Homo sapiens: one gene and its partners. The protein of the gene in region 2 purifies or fractionates together with the protein of the main gene of each other region. This does not show direct contact. Each region holds a gene or a part of one and is shown on either strand. Other genes may lie near its edges.

Region 1 (2,909 bases), on a different chromosome or scaffold from region 2:
TATTGTCTCGTATGATGTCATACATGGGATCTTCATGTGCCTTAAGGGTCAGAGAAGGTTAAGGTTTGGTTAGGCTTCATGGATCACAAGTTAAATACAATGAAATGCCTATGTTATGAAAACCAGTTTATTTTTTTTTTTACTGTTTGATGTAGCTGCATGTTCAACATGTTCTAGGTCACATCACTGAAAACTCATTAAGGCTAAAAAATGGATTTTCCAATTAGAAAAATACAGGAAATGGCTACTCTCAGCACACTGTCTTTGGGGTAGCCCTGCTCTGCAGGAGCAATCACAGAGCTATAACACTGCCACCTCAAAAACAAAGAAAAATACAGGGAATAACTGTCATCTAAAGAAAAAATATACGGACACTTTAATCTTACAGTTTAAAGACATGTACTCTTTAAAGACCGGGAAATTAAATCCCTGATTTCAGTCATGAAACATGACTTTTTTACACAGTAAATTTTAAAAAGTGCGGTTGAATAGATAACAATGTCTGTTTCAGAAAAAAAATCACTGTTCCAAGTTACAAACAAAGATCACTTTAATAAGAATTCCTTTTTTTTGTAAAAGAGCTAATTTGTCATACAAATGTAATTTAATAAGCATGTAGTTAACAGCACACACTTTGGTCAAAGGGCTTCTGGGAATGTATTTTATGTGACCATTCAAGTTCACTGGTGACTTTCTGCTTCACTGATTTTCACTATCTCTGATAAATGTAAATTGACACTCTTGGACTTTACTTACCACTCTGAACTGCTCTAACTTTTGGTTGCCTTTGATAAAGAAAGGGCATTCTTTGTCACCCGTTCGGTGACCATAGCGTTTGCAACGCCAACCTAAAAACGAAAAGAGAAATATTTCTGTAAGATAACAGTTTCACCTACTCAAGATAAAGAATCAGCAGAATATATTCAAGTTTTTCTTCATTAAACTCTAATTCTAAAACAAAATATAATTATGGACAAGCCATGTAAGATCCCAGAAACAGAGGTAAACTAATTGCTTCCCCAAGCATCCTTTAGTCTTATACCTTTAGGAATAATATTCTATCACCAAGTATTTATGAAGCAATCCAATGGAGAATTACTTCAAAAGGTGAATTTTTTTTTTTGAGATGGAGTCCTGCTCTGTCGCTCAGGCTGGAGTGCAGTGGCGTGATCTCAGCTCACTGCAACCTCTGCCTCCTGGGTTCAAGATATTCTTCTATTTCAGCCTCCTGGGTAGCTGGGATTACAGGTGCGTACCACCACACCCAGCTAATTTTTGTATTTTTAGCAGAGATGGGGTTTTGCCATGTTGCCCAGGCTGGTCTTCAACTCCTGACCTCAGGTGATCCGCCCGCCTCAGCCTCCCAAAGTGCTGGGATTACAGGCGTGAGCCACCACGCCCGGCCCAAAAGGTACATTTTTTTTAAAGTGTGTTTCAGTATATTTTTCAGAGTAAATGTTTTCATAAAGTATCTCTGCTTCTCATTTACTATTTTAGACACTATAAAAGCTTCTTTCTCAGGTTGAGTCTGTTCAAAACTCTCACTTTTAAGTAAATAAAATCACAAGTTCTCTTAGAATATTAATGGTGGCTGGGCACAGTGGCTCCTACCTGTAATCCTAGCACTTTGGGAGGCAGAGGCGGGTAGATCGCTTGAGGCCAGGAGTTCGAGACTAGCTTAGGCAACATGGTGAAACCCTATCTCTACAAAAGTACAAAAAAATTAGCTAAGCCTGGTGGCGCATGCCTGTAGTCCCAGCTATCTCAGAGGCTGATGTGAGATCACCTGATTCTGGGAGGTTGAGGCTGCAGTAAGTTGTGATCACACCACTGCACTCCAGCCCGGGTGACAGAGTGAGACCCTGTTTTCCTGACCCTGGTAGAAGGTTGTTTAATGTGTGGAAAAGGTAAAACAGAGGGTCTCTGGCCAGGGAGACCAGGGAGACATCAGGTAGGTCTGAAGGAAGCTGCTGCAATAGCCACAAAGGGTCACACGAATGAATGAAAAGCAGATGGACACATTTCCAGACTCCCTCCACTCGGCTCCCAGAACACTCATAGTATGGCTTTCCCTCCACGTGGGAGCCTTCTCTGGGAAAATATAACCCACCCAAAGAAGAAAAACCGATAGATACTGAACTCTGAGGCACGTTGTCTTTGCTTTTAACAAATAATCAAGGCAATGAAGCATTCCCATCAAAATTCTCAAGGAAACTGATTTTTAAATTAGAATTCAATATCCTGGTAGTTAAAAATCTGTTAAAGACGATTCCAGAAAAGTAAAGGTCTTAACATTTTTATCTTCTATAAACCCATTTTGAAGGTAACAGCCATAGGATTTGTTACACCATAAGGAGAGAATATGATAATAAAGAAGACTCAAGACACAGGAAAATGGGTGATCCAACACGGGAGAGAGGCTAAGGGGACCTGCAGAAAGATGGTGTCTTAGTCAGCTCGGGCTGACATAACAAAATGCCGTATTCTGGGTGGCCTAAACAACAGAAACTGGTTTTCTCATTCATTCTGTAGGTTGGAAATCTGAGATCAGGGTCCCAGCAAGGTGGGTTTGTGGTGAGAGCTTTCTTCCTGGCTTAAGATGACAGCCCTCTTTCTTCTTCACATGGCACGGTGGTGGGGGGTGGGGTGGATGCTTCCTTATCTAGAAGATGGAGAACGTGCCTTGGCTGTAAGAGGGCTGTGATGAGAACAAGTTAAATAAAAGAAGTAAACACTCTTTGTAAATTGAGGCATGTAAGTTGCATGGATTAGGGAAACTCTCCCACACTCACACTGCATAACTTTGACTTCTTTCCCCAGTGGCATCCAAAGTCCTTTAGTTGGTGCATGAGCCAGAAATTCCCTGGCGTGTTCATTGCCTGGTACATCTGGTATGCAATCTTCTGGCT
Region 2 (5,487 bases):
GGGCAATGACCTTTTGACTTATATAAATGCTGGTATGTTGACATAACATGGCATATATATTTTTTTAAGGATGAAGTAATTTCATTTTATTATTATTTTTTTTTTGAGATGGAGTCTCACTATCTCACCCAGGCTGGAGTACAGTGGCGTGATCTCGGCTCACTGCAGCCTCCACCTCCTGGGTTCAAGCAATTCTCCTGTCTCAGCCTCCTGAGTAGCTGGGATTACAGGCGTGCGCCACCACACCTGGTTAATTTTGTATTTTCAGTAGAGACAGGGTTTTTCCATGTTGACCAGGCTGGTCTCAAACTCCTGACCTCAGGTGATCCACCTCCCTCAGCCTCCCAAAGTGCTGGGATTATAGGTGTGCACTACGACGCCTGGCTGAAAAACATGGAGTAATTTTAAAAGCATGATCTGTGGAGTTAGACCCTGACTTGAATTTCATCGCTGCCATACCGCTGACTTATCAACAAACTTTAGGCAAAATATATAACTTTTGTAATCCAGTTTCCTCTACCTCATGACACTGTTATAGGATGAAAATAAGACAAGGTATGTTAAGGGTCTACTATGATACTTGGCACATAGGAAGGAGTCAATACACATTAGGAAAAAATAAACCCAATAACGTCTATTCTTTTGCTTTTACAGTACGGCCCATTTTCCACATGTGTGCCCAACAGCATTCTCTACCATCTTTCCATCTATTATCCCACTAAAGATGGTTCCAAAAGCACTTGGCTGGTTGTATAATATAATTTTAATAGGTGGCAGAAATTTTATCAAGGTATTTTATTCATCGCCTAGGCTCATCCTATTGTGTAAAAAGCCCAACTGTGTCTTTGGCAAGTCCAGTTGATCTATTTCCTTCTAGCTCTCAATATATGGCTTCCCCACAGGTATGCCAGACCATTTATGCTGCTTCTTAAGGTCTGTCCATCAGGGAACGGTCCATCTGGTTGATCACAACAAGACATCAGCATCATCACGTGCTATTCGTCTCATAGTTATATGCATTTATAACAAGATAGCAAAGAAACTAGAGTGTGTACCCACCCCCCCAGCATACACTTTGCTCCAATTCTAACAATACAGTTTTAGGCTCTGAAATCTAAGCAGATGATATTTAGAGCAGGCAAGCCTTTAATGATCTTCGAATCTGCACTCCATCAGACTAACTTTATAGTGCTACCATGTCTGGGGAGTTCCTTAAGAGCGGTCCCACAGTAACTGGGGAGCTCCTTAAGAGCAAAAGCCATGTTTTATTTGTGCTATATGACCCCCAGAGTGCTGTGTACTGGCTCACGTGGCTTGTGTTCCCAGAATGAAGTTAATAATGCCAGAACAGCTTAAGAACATACCAGCAAAAGGAAGCAGTCTGTGCCACATGGTTCTGGTTCAATCTTGATTTCTTTATTCTTGCGTTTATATACATTAGGGGTGGCATGAAAAGCTGGAAAACAAAAACTGTCTTGTTGCCAGTGGTCTATCCACTTGACAAGATGGGGAGAAACAAAAGTGAATTAGAGAGCTATTGTAGGAGTTAGAATTCGATATAAACGGCTACCATCAGGGTGCACAAAATTCAGTCATTTCTGACATCAACACAATGCTTTCAAAGCTAAGAGGTACTGAGGGACAGATAAGTTGCTAGTTAGTCTGTCCCTATCATGCAAAGCATGTTGCACTATAATTGAGCAAGGGAAAATAGAACTGGCCCTTTGTAAAACGTTAGAACAGAAGCCAGGAACTCTATACGAGAAACCAGAACAAAGAGAAGGAAATGGTGGCTGGGGATGGAAGAGAGGAGAGCATTTCAAACAGAGTAGCCCCACTCACGGTGAAGGAAGCAGTCGTATTTAAAGCAGCGCCGGCAAAAAAGTGTGTGGAAGGAGTGCAGAGATTGCTCCCGCTGCACAGACTTGGCATTGGGGCCATCGATGTTGGGTGTGCACTGAGGGGGAAGTGCATTGGGGTCTGACATCTCTGTTAGTTCTCGATACCTATTTAAGAAAAGAGAGATAAGAGTTCCTCCGAGGAACTGCCTCCACTGAGGAAATACAGATTGGGTACTGACAGTAGCTCACCTACGGTCTGCCAAGGGAGGATGGGTGTTTTTTATAGGTCTGGTTGATAAGAGAATGGTAGATAACTAGAGTGGGTCCACCATTGTAATTATGCTGGGTTGGGCAAATGTTGGAAAGTAAGGGGAGGGAAGGATTTGTTAAGATGGTGCTGGAGTTAACTCTCCAGAAAAATGGCAGAGTAAATGTTCTCTGCCCAGACTCACTCAAAAGCCAGTATACGATGACCCTTAATATAGTAAGGGGGGCATTTAGAGGTAATTGAGTAAGCAAGAAATAATCAAATTGCGGGCAAATCATAATGCCCTTACCATAAACAAAGCTTTTTACTAACCAAAAATTAGGAGGGAATAAAGGTTTTGTCCGAGCACTCTGTATATGGCCTAAGTGGGACAGCTTTCCCTACCTCTCCTTCATGTCATCTGGGACACCATTCTCAGGGAACATTGAGGCAATTGCACTGAAGATCATGTCATTTGGGAACTGTTTCTTGGAACTCTTTTTGTTGCCTGAATTGGAAATGATAAAAAGCTCCTGAGTGCGATTATCAGAACACGTAAACAAATCTGTGTGATCTTTTTTCCTTTTGTCATAGCATTTTGATTACAGCTGCTTTGTTAACCTAACCACTGATTGTTTGGAGATATATAAACATCAGTGCTATCTGGACTTATCTGATATATGCTACCAGTAAATAAGGAAGTTAGAGTAGTCTACATATTAACAACAAAATCCACAGTCCCAATTAGAATCTGGATGTGAGGTGGCTCACGCCTGTAATCCCAGTCAGTACTTTGAGAGGCCGAGGGGAGCGGATCACTTGAGGCCAGGAGTTTGAGACCAGCCTGGCCAACATGGTAAAACCCCAACTCTACTAAAAATACAAAACTTAGCTGGGCATGGTGGTGCATGCCTATAGTCCCAGCTACTTAGAAGGCTGACACACAAGAATCACTTGAACCAGGGAGGTGGAGGTTGCAGTGAGCCGAGATTGTGCCACTGCACTCCACCTTGGGTAACAGAGCAAGACTGTGTCTCAAAAAAATAATAAATAATAGATTTTAAAAATAAAAATAAGAATTTGGAGGTGAAAAGAGTGTTCATAGAGAGGCCTGAACATAGAAGAATCCTATCATGAAGTGGATGCTGAAGAACTACACTGATACTATAATTATGATACAATAAAAGAGAATACACTATGTCCCTGGACATATAGTATAATTAAACTATTAAATTTTAAATTAAACATTAGTGACATGGAAAAGTACTCATAAGATTAAATAAAAAGGGATATAAAATTTGATATATACATATATATAAATTGGCATGATCCCAATTTCACATGAGACATATAATTAGAAATGAATAGCAATGATTATTCTATCAGTTCTTCTACTTTCTTCTTCACCCAAGTCACAGCTATCTGAAGCTATCACTTAATGATCATGTTCTCCTTTTAAGTGAACCAACAAGAAGCACCAACAGCCTTTAATAGGCAACAAATCTTTCCAGTTCTTCCTTCTTCCCTATCCCTGTCACTTTAAAAAAGGAATAAGGGAGCCAGTGCTACGTACCTTCAATAGCATGTCGCTTTCTCTTTCTTGTTACTGGCAGATCTTCTTTGCTGTCATCCTGCTTTCCATCTGAGGTGTCATTGTGCCCTTCCTCCTCCTCATCTGAGTACTGATTCAGGGCATCGACCAACTCCAGAAAAACAGCATCACTAATCAGAACGGATCCAGGGATCATCTCTGAAACATGAGGATTCGAAAGATGAGCAGTGGTCACTTCACATTCCATTAGTCCTCCTAGGCAGGTTTTCTTGTACTCACTCCAGAGGCCCAGATATGTCACATGTGTACATTTTTACATGGGAGATCAGGAAATTACAATCATTTGATTGGCTCCTACACATGCAGTGGGCAGCTGGCTAGAGTAGGAATACAGCTATAGGCTTTATTTATTTTTATTATTTTTTTTAGACGGAGTTTCGCCTTATTGCCCAGGCTGGAGTGCAATGGCGCGATCTTGGCTCACCGCAACCTCCACCTCCCAGGTTCAAGTGATTCTCCTGCCTCAGCCTCCCGAGTAGCTGAGATTACGCATGTGCCACCACCCTGGCTAATTTTGTATTTTAGTAGAGACTGGGTTTCTCCATGTCAGGCTGGTCGTGAACTCCAGACCTCAGGTGATCCGCCCGCCTCGGCCTACCAAAATGCTGGGATTACAGGTGTGACCCACCGTGCCCAGCCATAGGCTTTATTCTTACTGAAGAACTTCACTTCCTCAGTCACAAGTCAACTCTGAATTTCTGGTTCAAAATCTCATGAAAGTGTTCAAACAATCTCCAAGTAGGGCAGAGAAAAATAATAAAATGAAAATTCTCTTGGCTTTGCTGCTGATGGGTCAGTAATGACGTCTCTAAATCAAAAGACAGCAATTTTTCCTAAAATTGTACTTTATGGAGATGTACTACAATTTAGGAGGTCTTTGAACACTAGGAGGCACTGTGGACAAATAATGTAGTTCAACAGCATCACAACAGTGCCCACAATTGTCAAAAGAGCAGGTGGGGCTGTTGGTTTATGAAGTGATGGAGAGCCTCTCCTCTTTCCATTTCTTACACACGGACAGACTTTTCTAGAATTATGACTAAATCCAAACAATTGGCTTTTAGGAAATTCAGATTATTAAAACCAACTTCTGGGAGATTCAGGGGATGCCTGGATCAAAGAAGTATGACAGAGAGCCTCATTGCCATTCTCAGAGAAAGAGAAATAAAGAACAAAATGGTCTTGGATGTCCTTATGGAAAACTCCTAAGCCCTAAGATTAAACTTATTTGTACAATAAACTTTCTCTCCAGCCACTGATTACTACATAATCCTTTTATGTCCCAACTCCTTTTAAAATTTAACTAGGATACTTTAAATAATTTTTATTTCTGTTTCTGCTGCTTGAATCAGAAATAACTAGGGTAATAAAAAAAAAAAAGAAAGAAAGAAAAAAAGAAATAACTAGGGTATTTTGGGCCAGGCATGTTGGCTCACTCTTGTAATCCCAGAGCTTTGGGAGGCCAACGTGGGAGGATTGCTTGAGGCCAGGAGTTTAAGACCAGCCTGGGCAACGTGGTGAGACTCCATCTCTACAAAAAATTTTAAAAATAAGCCAGGGCCGGGCACGGTGGCTCACGCCTGTAATCCCAGCACTTTGGGAGGCTGAGGTGGGAGGATCACAAGGTCAGGAGATCGAGACCATCCTGGCTCACACGGTGAAACCCCATCCCTACTAAAAATACAAAAAAGTAGCCGGGTGTGGTAGGCGCCTGTAGTCCCAGCTACCTCGGGAGGCTGAGGCAGGAGAATGGCATGAACCCGGGAGGCGGAGCTTACAGTGAGCCG
Region 3 (3,855 bases), on a different chromosome or scaffold from region 2:
CCCTGTCCCCTGAGGCAGTTGTTGATGAAAAGTGGTTATATTTCAGAGGGTCTGGGCTATCACATGCTTAACTGTCTACTTCACATCACACGCGGGTTTGGAGCCATAAAATGCTAAAGCGGAAGGACCTCCGCCAGGGGCCAGCCAGGTAGCCCACCCTGTGCTACAGAGGTGGCATCACAAACATAAGTTGCAGCCCTTCCAGAAGCGGCCTTGTTTACCCAGAACCCACTTCCCTCTCAGTCACCTGGTTTGCGGTGCACTTAGCATCCCCTTCATTGTGGGTGCCTTGAATATTCTTCATAAATAACAACTGATGGTTTTTTAAAATACTGTATCTTATTGCAACCAGTTAGCTCTTGTCAAGAGCCATTTATCACAGCATCTGAAAGAGAAAGGGACTCTGTGTTCATTGAGTGGTGGGGCGGGAAAGATGATTTTTTCTTTAGGGCCTCCATATTTCCCTTAAATTTAAGCCTTCTGGATATTCTAAGAGGAGGGATTGCTTCTAAACTTCTGTCACGCTGGGTTTGACATTTTCTTACAGGTGTGGAAAATGGTCTAACATAATGCCTGTCACAAAGTAGGTAAAAATGTTTGCTGAATAAAGGCATGGATTCTGTAATTTTTGCTTTGTAAGAAAAGGCTATTTTTTATCATGGGGAATTTTTTAAAGAGACCTGTTTATAGTGGAGTCACATCATATGCCTCCTGAAGCAAATTTAGATATATGCTGAGCCATGAATTTTTTTTTTTTTTTTTAAAGAAAAATGAGGCCGGGCACAGTGGCTCACGTCTATAATCCCAGCACTTTGGGAGGCCGAGGCAGGCGGATCACGAGGTCAGGAGATCAAGACCATCCTGGCTAACATGGTGAAACCCCATCTCTACTAAAAATAGAAAAATTTAGCCAGGCATGGCAGCGGGCGCCTGTACTCCCAGCTACTCAGGAGGCTGAGGCAGGAGAATCGCTTGAACCTAGGAGGCAGAGGTTGCAGTGAGCCGAGATCGTGCCACTGCACTCCAGCCTGGGCGACAGAGCGAGACTCCATCTCAAAAAGAAAAGAAAAGAAAAATGACAAGAATTGGCCATTTAAAATTGCAGGTGACTGCCCTGGCATCAGCGAGTGTGCCCTTGCCATGAAGTCCCCAGTCAGTGCGGTTCTCACAGCATGGTTCAGGGGCTCACCCCAGCCCCACGCCATGCAGTGCACATCTGCACAGGTCTGCTCTGACGGCACGGCGTCCCCCACCGTAGACCCTGCATATGATGTGGCTCCATGCTAGTCATCCCCTTCCCAGCAGCCGATGCTCAGGTGGGTAGCAGGGCCTGCAAAGATTTCCACTCTGTAACATGTATCATAATTCTCACCTTTCCTCAATAGCTTCCTTTGCTCCAATAAGCTTTGCAATCAAGGCCAAAGAAAATGATCTGCTTCCCCTGGAAAAAAATCGTGTTAAGCTAGATGATGACAGTGATGATGATGAAGAAAGCAAAGAAGGCCAAGAAAGTTCTAGTAGTGCTGCAAACACTAACCCAGCAGTTGCCCCACCCTGTGTAGTTGTTGAGGAGAAGAAGCCTCAACTTACCCAGGAGGAGCTAGAAGCAAAGCAAGGTTTGTTGATAGCTTTTAAACTTCTTGAAAGAAAGGAAATACACAAATATAAGATTTATCTGCTAAGCCAAAAAATCTCGAGGCTGCCAACTAGAATCTGAAGCCTTTGGAAATCGACCTATTTGGGAGTTGTGTAACATGTCTGAGGTTTTGAAACGTTCTCTTTTAGAGGAATGAGCTCTGCTCTTCACTGAGCCTCAAATGCAGTGCCGCTGGCAGTTTGTTTTCGAAGAAACTGAGTTGGCCGTCTTAGCTCTAATGCGCCACAGTGGAATGCATTAATGGCAGCTCACTTTGCACTTGGCTGGCAGCCCCAGGGTAAAAGGCTCAGCCTGTCTTCCCAGCTCAGGAACCAAACTAGGAGATGCCCTCTTGTGAGGCTGCCTACCCACAGAACCATTGGGCCCTTGAAGGTGGTGTGTCCCCAGCTGGTTTTCCGGCTGCGGCTCATCTTCATGGGCCGCAGTGTGGCCACCACACCCACCCCAACACTGCTGGCAGCATGGGGACAGCATGTAGTCTTCCCATCCCGACTCCAGAATAAATTCTGCTCTGCATTAAAGCAGTCAAATAATGGTTGCTGCATTGTGGTTGTTATCTATTCTAACTGATTTTCTTAAATTGCTTTTCCTGTATACACACATTCAGATCAAGCAACATTTGAAAGAGGCCAATTTTCAGGCCAGGCGCGGTAGCTCATGCCTGTAATCCCAGCACTTTGGGAGGCTAAGGTGGGTGGATCACCTGAGGTCAGAAGTTAGAAACCAGCCTGGCCAACATGGTGAGACCCCATCTCTACTGAAAAAACAAAATTAGCCGGGCGTGGTGGCACACGCCTGTAATCCCAGCTACTTGGGAGGCTGAGGCAGGAGAATCGCTTGAACCCGGGAGGCAGAGGTTGCAGTGAGCTGAGATCACGCCATTGCACTACAGCCTGGGCAACAAGAGCAAAAACTCCGTCTCAAAGAAAAAAAAAAAAAGCCATTTTTCAACCACAATCCACCATCAAGAACTTCCATTGTGCTGTGGTGTTCTCCCTAAGCAAACTTGTACTCATGCCTGTACATCTGAATCTGTCCTTCCTGTGTGTAAACTAACCAACTGTCGGATCATTTGGAATAAAACACTTATAGAGTATTCATTGCCTGGTGTGAATATTTTGGATATATGCTGAGAGCCACTCTGAGGTTTTCATTATTCCAGCTTTCGTTAGTGTAGAGTCTCACCAACCTTCTAACTCTGAAAGTAAAATGTCCAAAAAAGGGCACGTTATAAACTAATTCTCTCAAAATTTGATTTGTCCAATGTATGTACCTATTCAGAAACTTTAACTAACTGCATTGTATGACACTTTTGCAACCTGTGAAAATTAAGATCAGATAAAATACTGTTTGCTCTAAACTTCTCTTTTTTCTTTGTTTATTCCTTAAGCAAAGCAAAAGCTGGAAGATCGCCTCGCAGCTGCTGCCCGGGAAAAGCTGGCCCAGGCGTCTAAGGAGTCAAAAGAGAAACAGCTTCAAGCAGAACGTAAAAGGAAAGCGGCGTTATTTTTACAGACCCTCAAAAATCCTCTGCCGGAAGCAGAAGCTGGGAAAATTGAGGAGAGTCCTTTCAGTGTCGAGGTATAGTAAAATCCCACATTGGTATCTGCGGGGCTGTGTGATACATAGAGGCAGGGAGGATGTGTCTCCCTCCAGCTGCCCTAGTCTCTGGCCTGAGTGAGGGATATGAGCTCCCAGCTCTTCCTCCCGACATGGTTGAGTGGCTTTTACTCTATAGCAGTGAATCTAAGAGTTTGCCAGCAGTCTCCCCCGTCAGTGCACAGTCACGCCAGCAGCAAACACTGCCCGCGATTTCAGGGGAGCCTCTGCTTCACGGCTGCCCTTATGGGGCTGGCAGGAGGGCTTGGGGAGTGCCTCCCATGGGTCCTGCTGGGGAAATGTGGTGGACACACTTCACTGAAGCCCCGCCTCCGCAGCAGCACCAGTATTGCGCTCACACGTGGGGCAGAAATCCTTTTGCCACGGTCTGTATCAATGTCAGCACTTTAATTAAAGAGAAAAAGGAAGAGGGAGTTAAGAGAACAGACTCCAGGAGTACATGGCTCCTTCCTCAGTGGTGTGAGCAGGAATAGGGCCTTACATGGGGGTCATCACGTGGCTGCCTTACAAGTCTCCCTGCCAAGGAGGGGGTGCTCAGAACAGTGCCTCAGACCAGAGGCCTTCAGTAGACACTGGCT
Region 4 (3,855 bases), on a different chromosome or scaffold from region 2:
TCAGACAACTAAAATAGAATTTTATTTTTAGTTCTGGGGACAAATAAGTTTGGTATGGATATCAGGACCAGCCTTCTCATCCTCCTGTGTGTTTGTTGCCTGTTGACTCTGGAAATTTGTAGAAGGAGGAGGTATATTATTTGATTCTTTCATTTTCTGAAGTGAAAGTCATTGTAGTTAAAGATAGAAGGGAGGGAGAAATCTTTAGTATTGGGTATCTTACTTGTAGTTCAACCTCCTTTTCTTCTAAGTTTTCTATAAACTTAGAGATATAACCAACATTCTTCCTTCCTCTCTTGTTGGTACTCCTTTATATATTTCTGACTTGTAGGAATGGTGGGATCTAATAATATTGTTAGAAAAATGAGTTGTAGAGTGAAGCTGCCTGAATAGAAAATTATCCCCTCTCATTCTGACATCTCATTTTGCTTCTCATTTTTGAAGTGTAACTACCTATGCTGGTTTACAGTCTTTTTTTAAATGAATTTAAAAGTAATGTGTGTTCATTAAAGAAAATTTTGAAACTAATGAATAGCAGAAAGAGAAAAGTAACTAGAATAAGTTTAATAGTTAGGGACCTTATTTTTAGCTTTTATTTAGAATTACTAAAGTACATATATTAACTACTTTTAGTTAAAACTAAAAAATTTGTTTTATAATATGGAATTTGATATGTATATCTTAGTCATGCTTTTTTTTAGGTAAAAATTTTGCACACTGATTTGAAGTTTAGGAAGAATTTCTTGATTTGTAGCTTTGAGACACGAAGGACATCCTATTTCATATCAAATAGGATATCAAAGGGCTTTTTGGGGGTTTATGGGATATCAGGGAGAACATAATGCATGATTTAGTTTGTAGTTTTAAAATCTAGGATATTATTGAAATTCAATTGATGAATTTTTGAATTCATCATTTGAGTTTTGAATGTTAGATATTGGATTATCATACAAATTTTTGTTAAGTTTTCTGTTAAATACTTTTTTTTTAGATGAAGTCTGAGAGAAAGTGAGTGATGTGTACATTTGATTTTTTTTTTTTTTTTTTTTTTTTTTGGAGACGGAGTCTTGCTCTGTCACCCAGGCTGGAGTGCAATGGCGTGATCTCAGCTCACCGCAACCTCCGCCTCCCAGGCTCAAGCCATTCTCCTGCCTTAGCCTCCTAAGTAGCTGGGATTACAGGCACCTGCCACCATACCCAGCTAATTTTTGTATTTTTAGTAGAGATGGAGTTTTGCCATGTTGGCCAGGCTGGTCTTGAACTCCTGACCTTAAGTGATCCGCCCACCTTGGCCTCCCAAAGTGCTGAGATTACAGGCATGAGCCACTGGGCATGGCCACATTTGATAAATTTTAATAAACTGATTAGTAATCAGAAAGTAAGGGGTAAGGCATTAGAAGTGGCTATAGTGGTTTTTATAATTATCTTAATATTTAATACTATAATACATTTGTTTAAAAATTCTTTCTAGCCATTATTCTTTTAGCACTTCATATGCAGATACATATGTATACCTGTTAGTACATTGTCTGCATTACATGATGAAATTCTGCAGTAGTAACTTGATGTAGACATTGGGTATATATAATATAAAAACTCAAGTTGTGTTTATTTCAAATGCTGTCCTTTTTAATTAAAATTTAAATTTTAGTGTTTAGATTTTATTTGAGAGGCTGGAAATATAAGAAAATGAAAATCACATTTAGTATATTTTTCAAGAAAAGAGTTCAGTTTATGAATTTTGGGTGTCCCAGCTCCAACTGAACTTCTGAAACATACTAGAAAAAATTTGCTTCAGTAATAATACATGTTTTTATTTCTGTAGCCTATGAGGTAATGTCTTAGAAAAAAAGAAAAAGTTTTGCAAATTATTTCCACTTTTTGACCATCAAATTTATTACTAAAACAAGAGACTAATAATTTCTTACTGTTCTTTCTGTGGATTAAAATAAGAAAATATTCAGACTTCTTAGATGAGACATCTCATTCACAGACTTTGGTAACTGACAGATTGAAGTTAAGGTTTCTAATTTTCTGTATTTTATATTTTTGTACTGTAATTATAATTGGATTTTAGGGTGAGTTTTTAATAATAAAGAGATGATAAAATTTATGCTAGTTTATCATGTTTATTCAGTGTTTTTCATTTAGATTACTTTCAAATGTTTGTAGTGATCAATAAAAAGGTAACATAAATAATGGGTCATTCCAAATTATTTGAATAGAAAATTTTTGATAAACTAAAAATGAATTACAAATTGAATTTTGTCACTAATCCAAATTTAGGTTAACAAAAATTTACTTTTGTTTATATTCTTGTTCCAAATCTTATAAAATGCCATTAATTATTTTCAAAACATGGGAAGTAGTGTATGCTAAATATAATGTTTATATTTTATAATTGAGTACCTTGGAGTACTTTAGTCATTTTGAACATCAGCTCTTTCTTTTTTTTTTTTTTTTTTTTTAAGAGACAGGACAGGAGAGTCTCTCTCTCTCTTTTTTTTTTTTTAAGAGACCCTTGCTCAGGCTGGAGTGCAATGGTACAGTCATACATAGCTCACTGAAGCCTTGAACTCCTGAGGTCAAGTTATCTTCCTGCCTCAGCAATTCTTGTTATACGTAATATAGACTAAAGCGCCTGCTCTAGAAATTTATCTTCAAAAATGAAACAAAATAGAACAAAGGTTGTGATTTTAGTTTATCTAAAATGTGGAGTTTCCTTCCTCTTGCCACCAGATCAGAGAAAAAATTTTGTAATGATATAAGTTGATTGAGATTTTTTATGGCATTTTGCGTAGGAATATATATTGCACAACTAGGCAGTTATCCACATTTATTATCCCTGAACTTTGAATTATAATTTTACATATGATGAGGCTGGCTAAACTTTAATGGTATTTTTTATTTTAGAAACCTAGTAAATACATATTTACATTTGTAATTACTTGCTGTAATCTTACATTGAATCAGTTGTATTCTGTTTCGTGTATTGTGTCCCCCCCCCCTTTTTTTAATAAAGGAAGCACTGTGACTGTTTTTATTTTAAAGACTTTTTTTTTTTTTTTAAGAGCAGATTTAGGTTGTCCCCTTCTGCCACACATGCATTGCCTCCTCCATTATCAACATCCCTCCACCATAATGGTAGATAGTTATAATTGATGAAGCTACATCAATACATCATTATCATCCAAAGCTGTGACTTCTTTTAGTAATAAAAAGAAGTTTCAAAAATATTACACTTTTGGAGATAATATCCTGTCATACTGAAAAGCCAAAATGTAACATTCATGTATCATATTTTTTTCTTAGTTGAATACGGTATAGGATTGTTATGAAGAGAAGATAAAACTTTTGAATCATTTTAGAAGATAATGGTAGTATTACATTGTTTCCTTATGTAGTTTTTGTACTTCTTTTGGCTTGGTACCTAATGATTATCATATAGATTGAGTGTAGCTGTTTGAGGAACTACTATGTTTTGGATTATTTTCTTTGAGATAGTAAAAATACTTAACATTTGAAACCATGATAAACTTTCTTAAGGTTTTTATGTAAAATGAAGTCTCATCTGTTGTATCAGATTGTTTTGGGGAGTTTAAAATGAGATATTAGTACTTTTTGTAATCGCTTATTGTCATTTGTGTTTGATTCTTAAAGTTATTTGAAATCCTAGTTCTGTAATAACCACTCTTCTGTGGTCTTAAATTTTAGAAACCCTGAGGTTGATACCAGAATAATTTATGGAGTGCTACTTCACTTCTGAGGGAGGTAGGGAGAAAAGCAAAGATGAAACTCAAGAAATACTGTGGTAGAAATGATACTAGAGGAAAATATACAATAGAGGTGGAATAA

Evidence for each region. Proteins that work in one complex are often made in the same cells at the same time.
Region 1: the proteins of EZH1 (region 2) and RP9 purify together in Homo sapiens (affinity purification with mass spectrometry; one large-scale study listed by BioGRID and IntAct). This does not show direct contact.
Region 3: the proteins of EZH1 (region 2) and SFSWAP purify together in Homo sapiens (affinity purification with mass spectrometry; one large-scale study listed by BioGRID and IntAct). This does not show direct contact.
Region 4: the proteins of EZH1 (region 2) and MTF2 purify together in Homo sapiens (affinity purification with mass spectrometry; 3 studies listed by BioGRID and IntAct, with this or other methods). This does not show direct contact.

The regions. Positions count from the first base shown.
Region 1 is NC_000007.14:33,096,515-33,099,423, forward strand, and holds part of RP9 (retinitis pigmentosa 9 protein), read right to left. Parts: coding exon 2,793-2,909; intron 849-2,792; coding exon 757-848; intron 41-756; coding exon 1-40. UniProt on the Homo sapiens protein: Is thought to be a target protein for the PIM1 kinase. May play some roles in B-cell proliferation in association with PIM1.
Region 2 is NC_000017.11:42,716,612-42,722,098, forward strand, and holds part of EZH1 (histone-lysine N-methyltransferase EZH1), read right to left. Parts: intron 3,839-5,487; coding exon 3,662-3,838; intron 2,597-3,661; coding exon 2,494-2,596; intron 2,007-2,493; coding exon 1,843-2,006; intron 1,457-1,842; coding exon 1,365-1,456; intron 1-1,364.
Region 3 is NC_000012.12:131,763,071-131,766,925, forward strand, and holds part of SFSWAP (splicing factor, suppressor of white-apricot homolog), read left to right. Parts: intron 1-1,385; coding exon 1,386-1,616; intron 1,617-3,047; coding exon 3,048-3,238; intron 3,239-3,855.
Region 4 is NC_000001.11:93,120,764-93,124,618, forward strand, and holds part of MTF2 (metal-response element-binding transcription factor 2), read left to right. Parts: intron 1-3,855. UniProt on the Homo sapiens protein: Polycomb group (PcG) protein that specifically binds histone H3 trimethylated at 'Lys-36' (H3K36me3) and recruits the PRC2 complex, thus enhancing PRC2 H3K27me3 methylation activity.